Linked DNA regions of Homo sapiens: region 2 is linked to region 1. Evidence: fine-mapped expression QTL. Tissue or cell type: whole blood. Region 1 holds a variant in brackets; the other region holds the start of a gene. All regions are shown on one strand. Distances are between the middles of the regions.

Region 1 (8,177 bases):
GAGGCAGGAGAATCGATCGAACCTGGGAGGCAGGGATTGCAGTGAGCTGAGATGGCGCCACTGCACTCCAGCCTGGGCAACAAGAGGGAAACTCCATCTCCAAAAGAAAAAAAAAAAAAGGCCTTATCTCCTGTCTTAGTCCATTTAGGGTGCTACAAGAAAATACTAGAAAATGGTGGCTTATAAACAACGGAAATTTATTTCTCACAGTTCTGGAGGCTGGGAAGTTCATGATCAAGATACTGGCAGATTCACTGTGTGGTAAGGGCCGGCTTCCTGGTTCATACGTGTCTTCTCTCTGTGTCCTCACATGGTAGGAAGAGCAAAGTGTTTCTTTGGGGCCTCTTCTGTAAGGGCACTAATCCCATTATGAGAGCCCCACCCTCATGACCTAATCATCTCCCAAGGGTCCCACCCCCTAATACCTTAGGGGTTAAGACTTCAACAAATGAATTTGAGAGGAACCCAATTCAATTCATAACAGGTATGCAGTGGCATATGCTTGTGGTTTTAATGTGCAATTTATATGATATCTGCCAACCATATAATTTCTTTGGTGGTGTCTATTCAAATCTTTTGCCCAGTTTTTTTTTGAGACAGGGTCTTGCTATGTTGCCCAGGTTGGACACCACCTAACGGGCTCAAGTGATCCTCCTGCCTTGGTCTCCAGAGTAGCTAGGACTACAGGTGTGAGTCACCATGCCCAGCTTCTTTTGCCCAATTTGGTGTGGAGTTTTTTTCTACTTTATTCTTATTTTATTTATTTATTTGAGACAGGGTCTCACTGTTCCGCCCAGGCTGAAGTGCAGTGGCCCAATCTTAGCTCACTGCAGCCTCAACCTCCTGGGCTGAAGTGATTTTCCCCACTCAACCTCCAGAGTGCCTGGGCCTACAGGCACGAGTCACCACCCCCGGCTAATTTTTAAATTTTTTTTTGTAGAGACAGAGTCTCACTATGTTGTGCAGGCTGATCACCAACTCCTGGGCTCCAGTGATCCTCCTGCCTCAGCCTCCCAAAGTGCTGGGATTACAGGCGTGAGCCACCAAGCTCGCACTTTTTTCCCTTATAATTGAAGGGTTCTTTTTTACAGCTTTATTGAGGCATCACTGACAAATGAGGTACTGTGTGTATTTGCAATGTACAATGTAATAGGTTCTGACATGTGTATAGACCCGAGAAACTAACACAATCAAAGAAGTTAACAGACTCATCACTCATGTCCCCTTGCCCCTTCAAAATCCCTCCTGCCCACCCCACCCTACCTGCCTTTCCCCAAGCACCCACTGATCAGCTTTCTGTAATTATACATTAGTTTGCTTTTTCTAGGATTTCATATAATGTATGTAATGTATACTGTACACAGTATACATTTTTTTTTTTTTTGAGATGGAGTCTCGCTCTGTCTGCCAGGCTGGAGTGCTGTGGCGCGATCTCCGCTCACTGCAAGCTCTGCCTCCCAGGTTCACGCCATTCTCCTGCCTCAGCCTCCCAAGTAGCTGGGACTACAGGCGCCCGCCACCACATCCAGCTGATTTTTTGTATTTTTAGTAGAGATGGGGTTTCACCATGTTAGCCAGGATGGTCTTGATCTACTGAACTCGTGATCCACCGACCTCGTGATCCACCTGCCTTGGCCTCCCAAAGTGCTGGGATTACAGGTGTGAGCCACCATGCCCAGCCTTTTTTTTTTTTTTTTTTTTTTAAAGAATGAGTTTTGCTCTTGTTGTCCAGGCTGGAGTGCAATGTCTCCACCTCAGCTCACCGCAACCTCCACCTCCCAGGTTCAAGCGATTCTCCTGCTTCAGCCTCCCGAGTAGCTGGGATTACAGGCACCTGCCACCACACCTGACTAATTTTTGTAGTTTTAGTAGAGGCAGGGTTTCACCATGTTGGCCAGGCTGGTCTTGAACTCCTGACCTCAGGTGATCTGCCCGCTTCAGCCCTCCAAAGTGCTGAGATTACAGGGATGAGCCACCATGCCCAGCCATCCCCACATCTTGAGGCCAAAATCCCAGGCATGTGGCTGGGCTCAGTGGCTCACACCTGTAATCCCAGCACTTTGGGAGGCCAAGGTGGGTGGATCATTTGAGGTCAGGAGTTCAAGACCAGCATGGCAACATGGTGAAACCCCGCTTTTACTAAAAATACAAAAATTAGCCAGGTGTGATGGCGGGCACCTATTATCCCAGCTACTCGGGAGGCTGAGGCAGGAGAATTGCTTGAACCCGGGAGGTGGAGGTTGCAGGGAGCCAAGATCGGGCCACTGCACTCCAGCCTGGGCAAGAGTGAGACTCGGTCTCAAACAAAAACAAAAACAAAAAACAAAATCCCAGGCATAAATCAGACAAGCCATGAGGGTTCATTCACAATGATTTATTGGCTGCCCCTCCACACCGAGCTGAGGTGGACAAGCAAGAGGATGAAACCTCCCCAGGACCCACCTAACTCCCAGGCATCACAGGAACAAGGCAATTTTCCAACAGCCTGGCAACGTCTGGGACTCCAACGAGGTCTGGGCCCAAACCTCACCTGAGACTGGCCACGCCCGTCCCATGCACCCACCCCTCTCAGACATCCTGGTGACCTAGGCTGAGATGAGGGTGACCAGGAGGGACCCTTCAGCTATAATATCATCCACCTCGCTCACACTGAAGCAGGCTCCTGGCCCGCCCAGCAGCAGCACAAGGCTGACCACAGAGCAGGTAAGCATCTGTATGTTTGTTCAATGGCTGAATGAGTGACAGTGGACTCCAGCCTGAGGGAGACCTGATACATCCAGGTCCCAACTGTGCACACTCAGAGCCCCTTGATAGAGCTGGATCGTGGAACCCCAACCAGCTGTTTCCATTTCTTTGGTTTAGGGGGAGCCTGAGACGAACAGATCACAAGCCTTTCACGCCATCTGATCTCTCAAGCCTGCCCTAGACGTGTCTACTGAGGGCTTCCTTTGTGCCAGGGAACTTGTGCGTTTCTCTGATCCACACACACGAATGATCTAAAATGCAAAGCCATTTGCAATCATAATTTCCAACTGTCCTGGTCTCCCCTCCTGACTGCACGAGGCTAGGAGCATGTGAGCCTTTTTTAACTGCAGCTTCGCATCGGCCCTTCCGTACAGAGGGGGGCCAAGGGTCTCCACTATACAGATGGGGAGCGCCAAGCTCAGAGGAGGAAGGCAACTTGTCCAGGGACGCCCAGCAAGAGTCGGGACTTTCTGGCCACGTGAAAATGTCTAGCCACTGAGGAGCGTGGTAAGAAGAGACTTTGAAATGGCAGCACCTGGCTCACAGGTACTTAGAAAATGTCCATCAAATGAATGGATCTCAACATGGCTTGAAGTTCTTCAGGAGTCAATATGCAATTTTTTTTTTTTTTTTTGAGACAGGGTCTTGCTGGAGACAGGTCTTATTGGCCAGGCTGGAGTGCAGTGGGAAGATCTCAGCTCACTGCAACCTCCACCTCCTGGATTCATGTGATTCTCCTGCCTCAGCCTCCCGAGTAGCTGGGATTAAAGGCGTGCACCACCACGTCTGGCTAATTTTTGTATTTTTGGTAGAGATGGGGTTTCACCA[T/A]GTTGGCCAAGCTGGTCTTGAACTCCTGACCTCAGGTGATCTGCCCGCCTCGGCCTCCCAAAGTGCTAGGATTATAGGCATGAGCCACTGTGCCTGGTCAAGATGCAATTTTAAAGAAGGAAAAATACAACTAAGAATATCATGCCAACCAGTGACATTCTTGACTGGAGCTGCTGCCAGGATTCTGTGAACCCCTCCAAAAGCTGTGACTCTATGGGGTCCTGGCAGAGAGAAAGAGGGAACCCCGATTTCTACAAAAGTTCTTCATCCTCATCCCCATATCTCAACCCCCACATCAGCCCTGGAGGGTGAGCCAATGACCCTGATTTGCAGATGGGGAAGTCAAGGCCAGGAAAGGATAGATCTGAGCGCAGGAAGCCTCCCAGCTCAGAGGGTCCTGGGTCCGGGTCCTCTCCCCGGTGCCCCTTGGGCCACCCCCTAATCCGCCTTCTTGGCCTTCTTCTTCCTGGAGCCCTCGCTCAACTCCTCCTTGGACTTGGCGGGCATGGCCGAATGCTGAGCTCCTGGCCCACCACCGCTGTGGGACCCACCATGGTTGTCGTGGTGATGGTCACCCCCGCAGGCCGAACCAAACAGCACGGGGCAGATGTAGCCCTCCAGGGCATCAAAGGGGGAGCTGTGTGAGTGGGTGGCTGTCAGAAACACCTGAGGTGGGGTGGCCAGGGAGACAGCAAGAGAGACAGAGGGAGACCAAGGTAGAAAGCAAAGGAGTGGAGGGCAGGGTGGGGAGAAGAGGGGAGAGAATGTCATCAAAGTCAAGGTTGGAGGTAGCCCAGACCCAGCCCTCTGGCTGCATGCACCCCCAGGATGATGGGCGACCATCTCAGGTTTCCCAGGATGCCAGATTTCAAGTGTTGACCCCTGGAAAGTTCCAAGCACACTGAGACTGCTGGTCACCCATCCCCCAGAATTCCCCACGACACCTGGGCTCAGAGAAAAGCTGTGCTAAGTGCAGGTCTGAAGGTCTGTGTCCTCCCAAATTCATATGTTGAAACCTATCACAAAGGTGATGGTATTAGGAGGTAAGGCCTTTGGAGGGGTAATTAGATCATAAGGGTGGAGCCCTCAGGAAAGACATTAGTGCCCTTATAAAGAGGCCCAGGAGAGCTAACCAGTCCCTTCCACCATGCGAGGACACAGTGAGATGCTGCCTATCTGCAACCAGTAAAGAGGGCCCTCACCAGAACCCGACCAGGCTAGTACCCTGATCTTGGACTTCCCAGCCTCCAGAACTGTAAGAAATACATTTCTTCCTTTTCCTTTTTTTGGAGACAGGGTCTCACTCTGTTGCCCAAACTGGAGTGCAATGGCATGATCTCAGGTCACTGCAGCCTCCACCTCCTGGGTTCAAGCAATTCTCATGCCTCAGCCATCCAAGTAGCTGGGATTACAGGCATGCGCCACCACGCCTGGTTAATTTTTGTATTTGTATTTTGTTTGCCTGTTTGTTTGTTTTTGAGACAGAGTCTCAATTTGTTGCCCAGGCTGGAGTGCGGTGGTGCGATCTTAGCTCACTGCAACCTCCACCTCCCGGGTTCAAGCGATTCTCCTGCCTCAGCCTCCCGAGTAGCTGGGATTACAGGCATGTGACCCCACGCCTGGCTAATTTTTGTATTTTTAGGAGAGATGGGGTTTCGCCATGTTGCCCAGGCTGGTCTTGAACTCCTGGCCTCAAGTGATCTGCCTGCCTTGGCCCCCTGAAGTGTTGGCATGAGCCCCCGTGCCTGCCCAGGAATAAATTTCTGTTGTTTCTAAGCCACCCAGTCTATGGTACTGCATTCTGTTATACAGCAGCCTGAATGGACTAAGACATTTGGCCTGGGGTAGAGCTACAAACATAGCAGGACAGGATCCCAGCCATCTGCTTGCCTCTCCCTTCTCGCCTAATGCAGGAAGACATGCTCACTCCCTTTTGACAGCCCTGGAGTCCTCACCCAGGGAAGACACAGCCCTGAGCTAAGATCTTCATGCAGAGGGAGAGAGCCCAGCCCCTGAAGACCCCTCCTGGGTGGGGTGATGTCAACTCAAGGCATGACTGTCAGACTAGAAGTATTCCTGGTCCAACTGAGTTCCTGGGTACCTGATGCTGCCATTTCAGCTTCTTGTCCCTCTGGTCTCTGTACCCAAGAGAGTGGGCCCACCTTGACCCTGGCTCAGGCTGGGTCCTTTACACAGAAGGCCTGTTCCTCTCATCTGTGTCCTGGCTGCTGGACACTGCCTTTTAAACTCTCTTCCCAGTGACCTACTGGCAAGCATCTCCCCTCTCTGGGCTGCCTGTCCCAGCCACATAAGGCTGGGAGTGTCCAATTTCCCCACTCCCAACCTGGAGGTGGCAGGGTGGCATTGGTCAAGGCAAGAATGCTGCAAGAAGAGAAAGGCTTACCTTACAGGACACCATGAACAAGGTGAAGATGAAGATGAGGCTGGCTTTGGACACTGGGAGCCAGCGGGTCTGCTGGAGGGTGAAGAGGATGGCTCCATACAGGCTGGCCTTGGTGGGGCTGGAGGGAGCAGCTGTCATTACCGGGAGGTGCCTGCATGGCTCAAGTCTTCATAACTCTGGCCCAGACACCCCCCTGCCCTGGCACCAGCTCCCATCCCAGCTTCTCTCTTTTCTTTTCCTTTTGAGATGGAATCTCACTCTGTTGCCCAGGCTGGAGTGCAGTGGCACAACCTCGGCTCACTGCAACCTCCACCTCCTTGTTTCAAGTGTTTCTCCCACCTCAGCCTCCCAAGTAGCTGGGATTACAGGCATATGCCACCATGCCTGGCTAATTTTTGTATTTTTAGGAGAGACAGTGTTTCACCATGTTGGCCAGGTTGGTCTCGAACTCCTGGCCTCAAGTGATCTGCTCGGCCTCCCAAAGTGCTGGGATTATAGGCATGAGCCACTGCGCCCAGCCACAGCTTCTCCTGATTGTAAGGTGGCAGGTTGAGATGGTGTCATCCTATGCATGATGGGTTAACCTGGTCCAAGGAAAGATCTGGCCTTTGTCCAGCTCCTGGAATATGCCCTCTAAGCCCTTGGAGTGTCCTGCCTTGATAAGACTGTCTTTGTTTGCCTGAGGACGGCCTTGGGCCACACCAGGTAGTAACAACGTAATTTATGGTGGGGGTCTTGGGCCATGCAGCATCAGGTGGACCTCTAGAGGGGCTGAAGACTGAGGTCAGCCACACAGGTGGTTAGCTAGTTCTGAGCCACAATAAAAATCCTGGATACCCAGGCTCAGAAGAGCTTCCCTGGTTGGCAGTACACCATGCATGTTGTCACACATTGCTGCTGGGAGAATGAAGCCCTGTCCACATGATTCCACTGGGAGAGGAAAACTGGATATTTTCACCTTTTCTTTCCTGTACTCTGCCTCATGCACATTTTGCCCCTGCTGATTTCTTGTTTGTGTATGAGTCAGAGTCTCATTCTGTCACCCAGGCTGGAATGCAGTGGCATGATCTCAGCTCCCTGCAACCTCCACCTCCTGGGTTCAAGTGATTTTCCTGCCTCAGCCTCCCGAGTAGCTGGGATTACAGATGCCCGCCACCACGCCAGCTGATTTTTGTATTTTTACTAGAGATGGGGTTTCGCCATGTCGGCCGGGCTGGTTTTGAACTCCTGACCTCAAATAATCCACCCGCCTCAGCCTCCCAAAGTGCTGGGATTACAGGCATGAGCTACCACGCCCAGCCAACCCCTGCTGATTTCGTTTTATTTATTTATTTATTTATTTATTTATTTATTTACAGAGACAGGGTCTCTCTCTATCACCCAGGCTGGAGTGCAGTGGTCTGATCATGGCTCACTGTAACTTCAAACTCTGAGGCTCAAGTGATTCTCCCACCTCAGCCCCCCAAGTAGCTAGGGCTAGAGTTATGTGCCACTGTGCCTGCTTAATTTTTAAGTTTTTTTTTTTTTTTTGTAGAGATGGAGTCTTGTTCTATTGCATAGGCTGGTCTTGAACTCCTGGCCTTGAGCAATCCTCCTATCTCGGCCTCCCACAGTGCTGGGATTACAGGTGTGAGCTGCCTCTGCTGATTTTATTCTATATCTTGTCACTGTAATAAATCATAACCCTGAATATAATGGCTTTGCTAAGTTCTCTGAGTCCTTCTAGCAAATCATGGAACATCAGGATGATCTTGGGGATCCCCCATCAGCTTATTTCCCCCAGAAAATGTGATTACAACATGCAGAGTTTTCCTTAACTTTTATTTTTTTCCTTGCAAAATAGGTTTAAGATATTTTTATTTGTTGCAAAAGACAGACCTGTGACTTCTATTCCTGATGTCTGTCTCTCATTGCTTTTTTTTTTTTGAGACAAGGTCTCGCTCTGTTGCCCAGGCTGGAGTACACTTGTGTGATCACAGCTCACTCCAGCTTCAACCTTCTGAGACCAAGCGATCTTCCTGCCTCAGCGTCCTGAGTAGCTGGGACTACAGGCACACACCACCACACCTGGCTAATTTTTTTTTTCTTTTTTTTTTTAGAGATGGGATGTTGTAATGTTGCCCAGGCTGGTCTTGAATTCCTGGTTTCAAGCAATCCCCCTACCTCAGCTTCCTGAATAGCTGGGATTACAGGGGTGGGC
Region 2 (8,177 bases), 27 kb after region 1:
CTGACCCAGAAAATGCCAGTATCCCAAGTAATATATTCCTCCCTAGACTTCCAAATAAACATCACCACCCCTCACAAATGCCTTAGACCTTATCCCTGACAAAATTCTCAATAGATCTTTACAATCGCTAGGAAAGGGAGTCTGGGGTTCTCTTACCAATGATCCCATTTCACAGACAAATAAACTGAAGCTCATGGTGGTGAAATAACCATTGTGGTGTTTACTCAGTGCTAGTGGTAGAACTGACTCCCATGATTCAGAGACGTTTAGTTTCTTTTTTCTTTTTTTTTTGAGACAGGGTCTCACTCTGTTGCCCAGGCTGGAGTGCAGTGGCACGATCATGGCTCACTGCAGCCTCCACCTTGCAGGGTTCAGGTAATCCTCCGACCTCAGCTTCCCTAGTAGCTAGGACTACAGGCACATGCCACCACACCTGGCTAATATTTTTGTATTTTGCATTTTTTAATTTTTATTTATTTGTTTATTGAGACGGAGTTTCATTCTTGTTGCCCAGGCTGGAGTGGAATGGCACAATCTTGGCTCACCGCAACCTCTGCCTCCCAGGTTCAAGCGATTCTCCTGCCTCAGCCTCCCTAGTAGCTGGGATTACAGGCATGTGCCACCACGTCCGGCTAATTTTGTATTTTTAGTAGAGACAGGGTTTCTCCATGTAGGTCAGGCTGGTCTTGAACTCCCGACCTCAGGTGATCTGCCCACCTCAGCCTCCCAAAGTGCTCGGATTACAGGCATGAGACACCGCGCCTAGCCATTTTTGTATTTTTTATAGAGAAGGGGTTTCACAATGTTGCCCAGGCTGGCCATGAACTCCTGGCCTCAAGCAATCTTCCAACCTTGACCTCCCCAAATGCTGAGATTATCTGACCTATGCTGACATTCTTTTTTTATTATTATTATTATTTTTTTAGGAGACACGGTCTTGCTCTGTTGCCCAGGCTGGAGGGCGGTGGGGTGATCATAGCTCGCTGCAGCTCCCAGGCAACATTGATGCTGCTCTGTTGAGGACCACACTCTGAGCTTCATCCATTCTCAGGATTCTCAAGAAAGCCTGACCCAGCCAGGCGCAGTTGAGCTCCAACTCCTGGGCTCAAGTGATCCTCCAGCCTCAGCTTCCCAAGTAGCTGGGACCACAGACACACACCACCATGCCTGGCTATGAAATTCTTAATTTCTGAACAAAAGGCCCCACACTGATACTTTGTATCGGCCTGGCAAATTCTGTAGCTGGTCCAGCACACAAATTCTGAGAAGAAAATTTACAGATACCCAGCACGCACACCAAACTGGGACTAACAGTTCAATCCGACACCTCACTTTTCTTTTCTTTCTTTCTTTTTTCCAAGACAGAGTCTCAGCCAGGCTCTGTCACCCAGGCTGGAGTGCAGCAGCGAGATTTCGGCTCACTGCAACCTCCGTCTCCTGGATTCAAGCTATTCTCATGTCTCAGCCTCCCAAGTACCTGGGATTACAGGCGTGCGCCACCACACCTGGCTATTTTTTTGCATTTGTAGTGGAGACGGGGTTTTGTCATGTTGCCCAGGCTGGTTTCAAAGTCCTGGGCTCAAGTGATCCACCCGCCTCGCCTCCCAAAGTGCTGGGATTACAGGCATAAGCCATCACATCTGGCCTCCAACACCTTTCTTTTCTAAGGAAACCAATCTCACATCAATTGTACTGATTCTTAGAGTCAAGCAGACCTGGGCTGAGTCCCGAGGCTGCAACTGACCAGCCATGGGACCACAGGCTCATTGTGTATTTAAGATAGCTTAGCCACTATTTCCTGTTTCCCCAGTTATGAAAGGAGGAGGTTGAACTGGGTGGAGTATCCTCAGCCCTGATAACAGACATCAGTCACTGAGGGAGGGGAGATTAATATTCTGATTCAATTGGTGGGGGGTGGAGATAGGGGGTTTAAAAGCTCCTAGGAGGCCGGGCGCAGTGGCTCACACCTGTAATCCCAGCACTTTGGGAGGCCGAGGCAGGCGGATCACAAGGTCAGGAAATCGAGACCATCCTGGCTAATACGGTGAAACCCTGTCTCTACTAAAAATACAAAAAAAAAAAAAATTAGCCGGGCATGGTGGTGGGCGCCTGTAGTCCCAGCTACTTGGGAGGCTGAGGCAGGAGAATGGTGTGAACCCAGGAGGCGGAGCTTGCAGTGAGCAGAGGCGGCGCCACCGCACTCCAGCCTGGGCGACAGAGCGAGACTCCGTTTCAAAAAAAAAAAAGAAAAGAAAAAAAGCTCCCAGGAGCGTCTCATGAATTCATGAATAGCCAGGGTTTGGAACCACTTCTCAGCCTTCAGGAACCTTCAGGCTCTGGCACTTAGAGCCTGGATGGCTTATTCTAGGACTTCTGCAGAAATATCTTGAACCTTCCTGCAAGTTCCCAGGCAGCTTGGAGACCTCTTTTCTCAAGACATTTGTGTCCTACATTCCCACAGGGCTCCAACCCTCCTCAGTTTCAGATTTTTTTTTTTTTCGAGACAGAGTCTTGCTCTGTCGCCCAGGCTGGAGTGCAATGGCGTGATCTCGGCTCACTGCAACCTCCGCCTCCCAGGTTCAAGTGATTCTCCTGCCTCAGCCTCCCAAGCAGCTAGGATTACAAGCATGTGCCACCATGCCTGGCTAATTTTTTTATTTTCAGTAGAGACGGGGTTTCTCCATGTTGGCCAGGCTGGTCTCGAACTCCTGACCTCAGGCGATCTGCCCGTCTTGGCCTCCCAAAGTGCTGGGATTACAGGCGTGAGCCACTGTGCCCAGCCAGTTTCAGATTTTCTAAGGTTCTGCAACTGCCCAAGGAACTGGCCTGAACCACCAAGAATTCTTCCCCAGAAAGGAAAGATAGCCCCATGTTCATGCTAGGACAACACAAAAGCCTATTTTGTTTTGCAAAGTAATGTTCTCCAGGATAGCTTTTAAGAAAATAGGCTCTGGCATGTGGATAGGCAAAAATAGAATAAAAATTCCTAGCAAATAGAGTGTAATCCTGTTAGCATAAGAGCGTGCATTGGCTGGGTGCAGTGGCTCACGTCTGTAATCCCAGCACTTTGGGAGGCCTAGGTGGGTGGATCACAAGGTCAGGAGATCGAGACTATCCTGGCCAACATGGTGAAGGCTTGTCTCTACTAAAAATACAAAAATTAGCCAAGTGTAGTGGCGGGTGCCTGTAGTCCCAGCTACTCAGAAGGCTGAGGCAGGAGAATCGCTTGAACCTGGAAGGTGGAGGTTGCAGTGAGCCGAGATCACGCCACTGCACTCCAGCCTGGGCGACAGAGCGAAACTCCATCTAAAAAAAAAACCGCAAAAAAAAAAAAAAAAAAAAAAGCGTGCATTTACGTTTATAACTATATAGCCGTAAATGAATAGAAGAGACATCAAGAAAGGTGGCTGGCCACCAGTATGTTGACAGTAATTCTCTTTTTTTCCTTTGCCCTTTTCAGTTTGAGTTTTTAGTAAACAGGGGCGCTTATTTTTATCCTCTGAGAATAAAGCTATTTCCTTTCTGAGCTATAGTGGTAATTTACATCTAAGTGGGAGAAAGGCTTATGAAGTTTGGGGTTCCTTTATTTTTCTAAGCCTAAAATCTATTATCTAGTAAGTTGCTGGTGTTCTAGAATAACGGTGAACAAGAAACATTTAAACATTTGTTCACGGTGAACCTTTTATAAAAATAGAACACGTTCTAAGGAAGCCATTCATCCTCATTTTAAAAATTAAGAAGCAGGCTGTACCCTCCTGTGACCTCCCCAGCGTGGAGTCTGGAGCTGAGATGGAGGACACTGACCCCAAGTCACCCAGCCTTGGGGCCGGTTCTGCTCCGTAAGTGGAAAGGATCTGGAGCCAGGGCTGGAAGAATTCCCGTGGGGGCTCGGAGATTCAGCACCGTGGGGGAAGGGAGGGGAGTGGAGGGTGCTGGGCAGTTGCAGTGGGGAGGAGAACCGGTGTCACTTTCGCTGAACCTGACCGCAGCCCCCAGCGCAGTGGCCCTTATAGACACTCCGCTGGCGCTCTCAATCCGCGTGCCAAGGTCAAGGAGGGAGGTCACACCTGCGCGCGGCCAGAACAGATGCACCGACCCCCACCTGCACCCTCGCCACAGCCGGCGCCCCTTGCCCAAGTTCCTGCAGCTCTGACCCAACCAGGAGCCCCGACCCCAAGCACCTGTTCCCCCTCCTCTAAACCCGCGCACGCCTCTCCTTCCCCTCCCCCAGCTTCATCGTCCTGGGGGCTTCTCCCCCGGGCTCACCCCGGCGTGAGAGAACCCCACGATTCTAGCGCCTGCCTACTCCCACGATGCAATCCTTGAACCTGTCCCTCGCTCCCTCCACCACGCACGGGCTTCCCCTCTCTGCGACCCCCGAGCTGCCCCGGCCCGCGCCACCCGCTGCCGGTCCCCTCCAGCCCCCCGCCCCGGCTCACCTGGCTCATACTTGAGGTAGAGGATGGAGACGATGAAGTAACTGAGGTCGAAGACGGGGAAGAGCGGCACCCGCGAGAAGCTGAGCGCCAGTTCGCCCAGGCTCAGCGCCGAGAGCAGCTCCATGGCGCCCGCCTGCCCGCCTGCCGGGTGCCACCCGGGGCCCCGGCCTCGTCCGTCCCGCCGCCCGCGGCCCGGCGACTGCGCCCCCGCAGCTGGGCCCGCCCCCGCCCGCCAGGCGCCACCCCAGGCCCGGCCCCCGCGGGAGAGGAGGGGCGACGGCCCACCCCGGGACAGGTGGTGGGGACGCCCAGCACCACGGACGCAGCTGGACGGTCGGGCGTCCCAGGCGTTGACCCTCCTGCCATCGCTACCCCGTTCCGCCCAGCGAGGCGGGGTGCGGGGCACCCGTGCAAGGCGAGGGAGGCTGGGGAGCTGCCTGTTCTGGGGGCCCGTCCCTCACGGAGCCCACCCACGCGGGACGCCCGTTCCCAGGGGGCCGGATCGGCCAGGACTTTGTCCCCGTGGGCTCAATTAGGACCCCGATCTTCGGTGGAGCCCAGTGAGGACCCCTACGCCATGGTGGGACCCCATGAATCAGAACCCCTGTTCCCCGTGGAGATAGGTTAGGACCTCGGTCCTCTGTGGAGCCCCGTCAAGACTTTTCTGCCCCATAGGGTCCGTTCGATCAGGAACCCCGTCTCCGGTGGGGCTCTGCAAATCAGGACGTCTTGTGGGGGGCAGCTCAGTGGGAACCCCCGTTCCCCATGGGGCCCAGGAGGATCTCATTTTAGAGCCCAGTTGGTTGGGGCACCCGTTTCTAGGGACCCCACTGCGTCAGGACCCCGCACCCTGTGCAGCTCAGGAGTCAAAGGATTCCTTTTGTCCAGAAGCCCAATTTGGGACCCCAGAAAGTGAGTAGGAATTGCTGCCCAGCTAACCCTACGGCATCGAGACCTCACGCATGCGCGGCACGCTTCGAACGCGTGACCCAATCCCGCCCCCAGGAGACCCCGCTCCTCCCATTCTGGCTCTCGGGGCCTCCCCAGCGAGGTGGGGCGCTCGCGCTCCCCTAAGGGGGTCTGGCCTGCAGAGGGCGGGACCCTCCCAGCCTTGACCTTCGATTGGCCCAGCCCTCGCCACTGTTGCTTTAGGATTGGTCGGCTTGTGCTCCTCTCCCCTCCCTCCCTGGGGCTTCCGCTTCCGGTTCTGACGGACGCTTCGGCCGTAACGATGATCGGAGACATCCTGCTGTTCGGGTAATTAGGGGGACCAGAGGCTGGGAAGAGAGAGCCAGGCAGGACGCGGGGGCGCCCCTAGTAACTGTAATTCTCCCTCTGCAGGACGTTGCTGATGAATGCCGGGGCGGTGCTGAACTTTAAGCTGTGAGTAGGTCGCGGCCGGACTGCGGCTCCATCCGGGGAACCCGTAGCCCCGCCCTCATAAGCGTGATCTCGGCGCACTTCTCAGGCCCCGCCCCCAAGCCGCAGGCCCCGCCCTATCCGCCCTCTGGGCACGCCTCCAGCCTGGTTTATCTTCCTCGCCCCCCACCCCCCGAGAGACCTTAAACCCATACTCTCCGTTCCTTGGTTGTCCCTCTGTTCACCTTCCTGGAGAGCTTAAGCCCCATCCCCCAAGAAATAGCCCCACCGCGGACCTTCCGCCCTGCACCCGCACTGTCGGGCCACTTTGTAAACGGTCGGTGGCTGCTGACCTGGCTGTGATTGTCCGGGCAGTGGGGGCCCAGAGAAGGGTATTGAACGTCAGAGGTCACACAGCAAGTTTGCGGCAGGGCCAGGGCTGAAACTTAGTGTTTGTGGCCTTCTGAGCTGGGGGTCAGGGGGCTGAGGACTCTATGTCCCATTGAAAGTGGACACTGTCTGCTCCTCTTTGTAGGAAAAAGAAGGACACGCAGGGCTTTGGGGAGGAGTCCAGGGAGCCCAGCACAGGTAAGGTCTAATTGGATCCTGGAATTGCATGGTCCACTTCAGAGGACAGTTCTGTTTCGCCAAGCCCTACCTTCGTTTTCTTTCTTTCTCTTTTTTTTTTTTTTTTTTTTTTGACACAAGGTCTTGCTCTGTTGTCCAGGTTGGAGTGCAGTGGTGCGATCATGGCTCACTGCAGACTCGACCTCCTGAGCTAAAGTGATCCTTCCACCTCAGCCCCCTTAGTAGCTGGGATTACAGGTGTGTGCCACCATGCCAGGCTAAATTTTGTATTTTTTGTAGAGATGGGGTTTCTCCACGTTGCCCAGGCCGGTCTCGAACTCCTGGGTTCAAGTGATCCCTGCCTTGGCCTCCCGAAGAGCTGGGATTACAGGCGTGAGCCACAAGTTTTCTCTTTAATTGAGCGTGTGTGTGAGTGGGAGATGACTGAGAATGTGCTAGCCTTTCTGCCTACCTCTGTCATCTATTTCTTTCTCCTACCAGACCTCCCTGATGTGAGCACTCACATCACTTCCTACCGTTATAATGTTCTGTTATGTTTGCTGTCATCTGGCTAATGTCTGCCCCTCACATATGACTGTAAACTTCAGAGAAGAGGCCCTAGCTTGGCTTGTCCCATCCTTTGTTCTTGCCGTACCCGTCCTCCGATGCCTGTGAATGAATGAATGAACAACCTCACACATAGCTGTTGCTTTCAGAGTGCTGCAGACCTGCCACTTTTAAAATTAGATGCCAACATTAGATTTTTAATCAGGAGATTTTATATAAAAATTAAGATGTCTGATTTTTCTTGAAAAATTGGAACATTCTGCAACTCAAGATTCAGGAGAGCTGTTTGCATCTATTGAGTGTAGTTGAGAAGGACTCTGAGGAGGTGGGGCCTGTAGACTCTGCCTCATCCCAGCCCTAACCCCTTCATATGTCTATCATCTGCCTGGGCCCTGGAGGCCCCAGAATTTACACTTCCTGCTGAATTTGATTGTGTAACTATTTGGAGTCTTAAGGGGATCTGTACATGACTATTGTATCCATTCATTAATTCTTTCATTCACCAGATATTTGAGTACCTAACGCATGCTGGCTACTGTGCTAGGTGCTGGGGTACAGCAGGGGTAAGACAGATAGAGTGGAACTTACCATGGGGTGGGACACATGGTTTCTAAGCAGGGAATAGATAGTGACAGAGGTGACGTTAGGTGACAGAGGCAGGGAGTCACAGGATGGTGATGGGGTTGCCCTCCTGCTGGGGTGTGGAAGGGAAGGCCATTTGAGGAGGCGGCGTCACAGTCAAGGCGGTGGATGCCATGATGGAGCACTGCCCAAGGATGGGGGAACCCTGAGGAACAGAGGTTTTCTTCTTTTAGAGACAGGGTCTTGCTCTGTTGCCCAGGCTGGAGTGCAGCGGCACAGTCATAGCTCACTGCAGCCTTGAGCTCCTGGGTTCAAGAGATCCTCTTGCCTCAGGCTCCCAAGTAGCTGGGACTACAGGCACTTACTACCACGCCTGGCTAATTTTCTAAATGTTTTTTGTAGAGATAGGTATCTCGCTGTGTTAACCAGGCTGGTGTCCAACTCTTGGTCTCAAACGATCCTCCCACCTCAGCCTCCCAAAGTGCTGGGATCACAGGCATGAGCTACCACGCCTGGCCGAGCTGAGATTTTGAAGACACTCCAGCAGCTCCCCTTTTTGGGGGCCTGCCCTTGGGTGCTGACCCAGTTAGGTGCTTCCTGTTAGTGTTGCATTCTCCCTCCATTCTTAAAAGATAATGGTCACTTTCCCATTTTACAGATCAG

The links. PIP is the estimated chance that this variant, and not a neighbour inherited with it, causes the effect.
Region 2: TMEM38A starts here. The variant in region 1 is fine-mapped to the expression of TMEM38A in whole blood (TOPMed, PIP above 0.99).

Annotation. Positions count from the first base shown.
Region 1 is chr19:16,684,206-16,692,382 of GRCh38, reverse strand. It overlaps TMEM38A (transmembrane protein 38A), which reads right to left. Exons shown (of 6, transcript NM_024074.4): 5 at 5,978-6,095; 6 at 2,360-4,239. The coding sequence ends at 4,012. Among named protein-coding and RNA genes, the nearest start is that of TMEM38A, 27 kb to the right of the region's middle. The variant T/A (reference allele first, on the strand shown) is at 3,574.
Region 2 is chr19:16,657,604-16,665,780 of GRCh38, reverse strand. TMEM38A (transmembrane protein 38A) reads right to left here and starts at 4,642. Exons shown (of 6, transcript NM_024074.4): 1 at 4,440-4,642. The coding sequence starts at 4,563. It overlaps SMIM7 (small integral membrane protein 7), which reads left to right and starts at 5,637. Exons shown (of 5, transcript NM_024104.4): 1 at 5,637-5,696; 2 at 5,781-5,822; 3 at 6,334-6,386. The coding sequence starts at 5,671. RefSeq lists an enhancer at 3,481-4,289 and silencers at 4,575-4,824, 4,845-5,044.